Homo sapiens: one gene and its partner. The protein of the gene in region 2 purifies or fractionates together with the protein of the main gene of each other region. This does not show direct contact. Each region holds a gene or a part of one and is shown on either strand. Other genes may lie near its edges. The genes, in order: MRPS21 and DUSP11.

Region 1 (3,133 bases), on a different chromosome or scaffold from region 2:
TAATTCCAGCACTGTGGGAGGCCGAGGTGGGCGGATCACCTGAGGTCAGGAGTTTGAGACCAGCCTGACCAACATGGAGAAACCCTGTCTCTACTAAAAATACAAAATTAGCCGGGCATGGTGGTGTATGCCTGTAATCCCAGCTACTCGGAAGGCTGAGGCAGGAGAATTGCTTGAACCCTGGGGGCGGAGATTGCAGTAAGCCAAGGTTGCGCCACTGCACTCCAGCCTGGGCAACAAGAGTGAAACTCCATCTCAAAAAGATCACTTGAGGTCAGGAGTTCAAGACCAGGCTGGCCAACATGGTGAAACCCCACCTCTACTAAAAATACAAAAATTAGCCAGGCGTAGTGGTGGGCACCTGTACTCAGTAGGCTGAGGCAGGAGAATCCCTTGAACTCGGGGTGGAGGCTGTAGTGAGCCGAGATGGTGCCACTGCACTCCAGCCTGGGCAACAGACTCTTGTCTCAAGGAAAAACAAAACAAAAACAAACTCACAGGAGGCATTAAACCTGAACTTGAGAACAAGAAAGTGGTTGTGAAGGGATCCTAAAGAACAACTCATCTGAAATGTGAATAAGTAGGTTGCCCTATTTCCACTCTCTTTTCCTACACCAATTATTGCCCTAAAACATAAATCAGATCATGTCACTCTGGTGCTAAAAAATCTTTCCTAATATACAGAGTGGCCTAAGCCACTAAAGTTCCCAGAATCATCTGCACATCAGAACTGCCCAGGGATCTTTTAAACATTCCGAACCCTGGGCCACACCCAGTCCAATTAAATCACAAAGGAGAGGGAAAGGGACATGAGCAGGTTTTTCAGTTTCCAAGGTGATTCCAATGTACAGACAGATTTTGGAACTACTAGTCTAAGCTCAAAGCCCAAACAATTGCCCCCTATATATATATCTTTTAATAACCTGCCCTACTGATCACTTGAGGTCAGGAGTTCGAGACAAGCCTGGCCAACATGGTGAAACCCCATCTCTACTAAAAATACAAAAATTAGCTGGGCATGGTGGTGCCCACCTGTAATCCCAGCTACTCGGGAAGCGGAGGCAGGAGAATAGCTTGAACCTGGGAGGTGGAGGTTGCAATGAGCCGAGATCAAGGCACTGCACTCCAGCTGGGCAAAAGATGGAGACTCCATCTCAAAAAACAAAAACAAAACACGTGCCCTATAATGCCTATGCTCTAGTCACACTTAAGTATATGCAGTTCTCCAAGCATCCTACATACTTGTTTTTTTCTTTGCTCATGATGTTCCCTTTACTTGGAATATCATTCTTTTCTTTTTCTTCCTGATGAAATCCTACTTGTTCCTCAAAGGCCCAAATCAATTGTTATCACATCTGTAAACTAGTTCAGGTGAAATCAAACTTTGGCATGCAGTAGTCATCTGGAAAGCTTGTTAAAACAGGGATTGCTGGCTGGCCATGGTGGCTCACACCTGTAATCCCAGGACTTTGGGAGGCCGAGCTGGGAGGATCACTTGAGCCCAGGAGTTTGACACTAGCCTGAGCAACATAGTGAGAACCCCATCTCCACAAAAAATAAAAATTAACCAGACATGGTGGCACACACACCTGCACTCCCAGCTACTTGGGAGGCTGACATGGGAGAATGGGAGAAATGCTTTATCCCAGGAGGTTGAGACTGCAGTGAGCCATGATTGTGGCACTGCACTCCAGCCTGGGCAAGCAAGACCCTATTTCTTTCTTTCTTTTGAGACGGAGTTGCGCACTTGTTGCCCAGGCTGGAGTGCAATGGCGCAATCTTGGCTCACTGCAACCTCCGCCTTCTGGGTTCAAGCGATTCTCCTGCCTCAGCTTCCCAAGTAGCCGGAATTACAAGCACCAGCTAATTTTTGTTATTTTTAGTAGACATAAGGTTTCGCCATGTTGGCAGGCTGGTCTCGAACTCCTGACCTCAGGTGATCCACCCGCCTCAGCCTCCCAAAGTGCTGGGATTACAGGCATGAGCCACCGCAACCGGCCTTTTTTTTTTTTTTGAGACAGAGTCTCGCTCTGTTGCCCAGGCAGGAGTTGCAGTGGCACGATCTCGGCTCACTGCAACCTCCGCCTCCCAGGTTCAAGAGATTCTCTTGCCTCAGGCTCCCGAGTAGCTGGGACTACAGACACGCACCACCACGCCCAGCTAATTTTTGTATTTTTAGTAGAGACGGAGTTTCACCATATTGGTCAGGCTGGTCTTGAACTTCTGACCTCATGATCTGCCTGCCTTGGCCTCCCAAAGTGCTGGGATTACAGGCATGAGCCACTGCGCTTGGCTGTGAAACCCTATTTCAAAGAACACCACAGATTGCTGTGCCACAGTTTCTGATTCTGTAGGCCTAGAGTAGGGGCCAAGAATTTGCATTTCTAACAATTCCCAGCTGATATTGCTGCTGATGGTCCAGGGACAACCAACACCATGGCACCATTTTTTTTTTTTTGTAGGCAGGGCCTCGCTCTGTTGCCCAGGCTGGAGTGCAGTGTCACCATCTTGGCTCACTGCAGCCTCAACCTCTCAGGTTCAAGCAATTCTCCCGCCTCAGCCTCCTGAGTAGCTGGGATTACAGGGGCGTACCACCACACCTGGATAATTTTTGCATTTTTAGTAGAGACAGGGTTTCACCATGTTGGCCAGGCTGGTCTCAAACTCCTGACCTCAGGTGATCCACCCACCTCGGCCTCCCAAAGTGCTGGGATTGCAGGCGTGAGCCACCACGCCCGGCTGATGTCTCTTTTATAGCACTGATCAAACAGTATTACATTGAACCCCTCATTGGGTTGTGTCTTTTCTAAGGTTAGAGATCAAATCTGTATTCACTTTTGCACCTAACAAAATACTTGGCAAAGAACAACTAGGAAATGTATGCCAAAAATGAGTCCTCTAGATGACTAATAAATGTCCATAGCACAAGGGATTAAGTGACCTTACAATATATACAGTTATTGGGGATATAGCTCAGAAAGCCTCAATAGTATTACCTTTACTACGATGGCATATTAGAGTTTAGATAGCATTTTTATATCCATCATCCTAACTACACTCCTATGAAATTGTTTAGGCAAATAATGTCCTCTTTTTATAGATGAGGAAACTGAAGTTCAGAGAGGCTGACCCG
Region 2 (3,824 bases):
GCACAACGTGCAGGTTTGTTACATATGTATACATGTGTCTTAAATACATATGACAAAGGGGCAATTCCACTGGTGCACTCTTTCTTGTTTTGCTTCTAGGGGTCCGTCCCATTCTTAATCTTTGCCCTTTCTTGTCTCTTTCACATAACTCTAAGACTCAGAGTTTTTTAATCTTTTCTTCTACTTCTCACTTCTTAACCAATATAGAAGACAAAAATAACATTTTAATTTTATATATTTCTCATTCAAATTAAAAAAGAAAGATGAGCCAGTTCAGTTCATATTTTGCACTAAAACTAATTTAACATTCCAAAGTTAAATTATTTGTGATCAACAAAAGGAAAAACATCTTACCCTATTAGCACCATCTGACATTTTCATCACCTTAGCATCATTAAATACAACAGGTCTGAGGTTGGAACTATAAAAAAATACCAAAAATCCCCAACCCCATTCATAATGCACACCACAGTTCAGGTAAGAACAAAAACTCACCATTATCTTTATTTTCTTTCAAAAACCCATTAACAGCGTGTTTGAATTTAAAAATAGTCTCATCATCAGGCACTTGATGTCCAACTGTAAAAATTTTTAAGTAAGGAACAGTTTCTGGCAAATCCTATAAAGCAAAACCATAAAAGATGTGTATTATTTCACTTGTAGAGAAATAATTAAAGAGTAATTAGGGGACCCAGAATATAAGCCAAGAGATTATAACAAACTTAATATGCCAATATCAGTATACACAATTCTGATAAAAGAGCCATTTTTTCCAACACTGCTTCAACCAGGAAGTATCACTTGATTTTCAATAAAACTACATAATAGATAGTCACTAGGTATACAAAACTGAAAGCAAATTCCATGTGAATGAATGCATATTTAACTATAAATTATATAAACAGTTCCATTTAATATTTTATAATTCAAGGGCCAGTGCCTTCATAAAGCAGCTATGATTTAAGTAGAAGAGTAGAGAATAGAGTCAGAAGAACTTGGATTTGAATTGTGAGATAGAGGGAATTCCAGGCACTATTGAGAACCGATATTCTTGGGGTGGGAGAAAAGTAGATACAGATAAAAGACAGAAGAGGCTAAGTCAAAATCATTTTAACCATCCACAAGTGTATAGTTCAGTGGCATTACATTCACAGTATTGTGTAACCATCACCACTGTCTATACCCAAAACTTTTTCATCATCCCCGACAAAAAGACTCTGACCACTAAACCATAATTCCCTTTTCTCCCCACCTCATAGATCCTTTAGTCTGCTTTCTGTCTCTGTGAATTTGTCTATTCTAGGTACTTCATACAAGTGGAATCATATATTTGTCCTTCTGTGTCTGGTTTATTTCACTAAGCATGTTTTTAAGGTTCATCCATATTGTAGCACGTATTAAATCTATTCTTTTTTATGGCTGAATAATATTCCATTTAAGACAGCAATTAAAAACATGTAATTAGAGAAATCACTTGGTTCTCTTTTAAACTTACTACCCATCAAAGAAGGCCAAGCTTCACATTAGCACAAGATGATTACTGAATTACTATAAATTATTTTAGGATCAGAAGGAAGAAAGTTCTTTTCATTGAAGGGTTCCACTTACCTCTGGTTTATAATAGCGTTGAGTATATGTTAAATCAATAATCAGTCCAAGTTCTTCATTTTGTTCTCGGATTTTGTTAAAAAGATCCAAAGGGGAAAAGCATTCTTCTGGAGCAAGTTTCTTTTCAAAACTCTGTCACAGAGAATGAAATAAGAGCAAATATGTGCTTAAAATCCTGTACTACATTAGGCATTTATTCAAGTCCTGTGATGCTAACATACAACGAGATTCAAAGGAAAGTTTCCATTCTCCTGGAACATAGAAGGTATATTACAACAATCCTTTCTTCCAGAGTGGTCAGAAAGAAAAAAATAAGCCCACTTCTATATATGTATTTCTGTATTTGTTTCATGTTGGTCTCCTAATCAGACTGTAATCTCCCAGATTTTATTCACCACTGTATCTCCAGCTCCAGGTGGAGTGCTTATCATATTTAGTGCTTATAAATATTTCTTTTCTTTTTTTTTTTTTTTTTTTGAAACAGGGTGTTGCTCTGTCATCCGTCATCCAGGCTGGAGTGCAGTGACACAAACATGGCTCACTGCAGCCTCCACCTCCTGGGCTCAAGCAATACTCCCACCTCAACCTCACAAGTAGCTGGGACTACAGGCATGAACCACCACACCTGGCCTTTTTTTTTTTTTTTTAAAGAGATAGGGTCAGCTGGGCGCAGTGGTTCACACCTGTAATCCCAGCACTTTGGGAGGCCAAGGCGGGAGGATCACAAGGTCAGGAGATCGAGACCATCCTGGCTAACACTGTGAAACCCCGTCTCTACTAAAAATACAAAAAATTAGCCAGGGGTGGTGGCAGGCGCCTGTAGTCCCAGCTACCGGGAGGCTGAGGCAGGAGAATGGCGTGAACCCGGGAGGCAGAGCTTGCAGTGAGCCGAGATCACACCACTGCACTCCAGCCTGGGTGACAGAGTGACTCCATCTCAAAAAAAAAATTTAAAAAAAAAAAAAAAAAAAAAAAAGAGATAGGGTCTTGCCGTCTTGCCATGTAGCCCAGGCTGATCTCAAACTCCTGAGCTCAAGCAACCCTCCTGTCTCGGCCTCACAAATAAATATTTCTCACATGTCTACATATATGAAGGATGGCTTTCATTGCTGAATATTCTTTTATGTATGTGGCTTATTTTTGAACTTTATGCTCTGTTCCTTCAATCTGTCTGGCTACTCAGGTGCCAGCAATGTACTTTTTAAAAAATAGACTAGTTTGGCTGGGTGCGGTGGCTCAAGCCTGTAATCCCAGCACTTTGGGAGGCCGAGGCAGGAGGATCACGAGGTCAGGAGATCGAGACCATCCTGGCTAACACGGTGAAACCCCATCTCTACTAAAAACACAAAAAAATTAGCCAGGCGTGGTGGCAGGCGCCGGTAGTTCCAGCTACTCAGGAGGCAGAGGCAGGAGAATGGCGTGAACCCAGGAGGCAGAGCTTGCAGTGAACCAAGATCACACCACTGCACTCCAGCCTGGGCGACAAGCGAGACACCATCTCAAAAAAAAAAAAAAAAAAATAGACTAGTTTTCAGAGCAGTTTTAGGTTCACAGCAAAACTGAGCCAAAAGGACAGATAGTTCCCACATGTACTTTGCCTTCCCCAACCCACCCAGACTCCCCCACTATCCACATTCCATACCAGTGTGGTCCATTTGTTACAAATGAAGAACCAACTCTGACACATCGTTATCACCAAAGTCTAGAGGTTAGGTATGCGTGATTCATTCTATGTTATGCATTGTATGTACATATTATGTTATATATATTTTGCCACAAAAAAAATGAGAGAAAGAACTAAGTTCAAGTTTTGATTCTTCCTTTTCTGAGCCTGTTTGATTATCTACAAAATTATTTATTAGATGTAACCATCTATTCTCTGAGCTTAGTGCAGAATAAGCACTCAGTAAGAGATATTAGTACTACTGCTACTTCATCAGCACAGGATTGTTGTGAAATGTGTTAATATACGTGAAGCCCTTTTATAGGTTTTGATCAATATATAACATGTATCCACCCTTAGAGTATCACACAGAATAGTTTCACTTCCCTAAAAATTCCCTGTGTCTCCAACACCTTCTTTTTGGAGACAGGGTCTTGCTCTGTTGCCCAGGCTGGAGTACAGTGGCATGATCATGGCTCACTGCAGCCTTGACCTCCTGGGTTCAATCGATCCTCCCACTTCAGCCTCCTGAGCAGCTGAGACTACAAGCACA

Evidence for each region.
Region 1: the proteins of DUSP11 (region 2) and MRPS21 purify together in Homo sapiens (affinity purification with mass spectrometry, with the first as the bait; one large-scale study listed by BioGRID). This does not show direct contact.

What each region holds. Positions count from the first base shown.
Region 1 is NC_000001.11:150,303,637-150,306,769, reverse strand, and holds part of MRPS21 (small ribosomal subunit protein bS21m), read right to left. Parts: intron 1-3,133.
Region 2 is NC_000002.12:73,773,305-73,777,128, forward strand, and holds part of DUSP11 (RNA/RNP complex-1-interacting phosphatase), read right to left. Parts: intron 1,741-3,824; coding exon 1,609-1,740; intron 620-1,608; coding exon 496-619; intron 1-495. UniProt on the Homo sapiens protein: Possesses RNA 5'-triphosphatase and diphosphatase activities, but displays a poor protein-tyrosine phosphatase activity. In addition, has phosphatase activity with ATP, ADP and O-methylfluorescein phosphate (in vitro). Binds to RNA.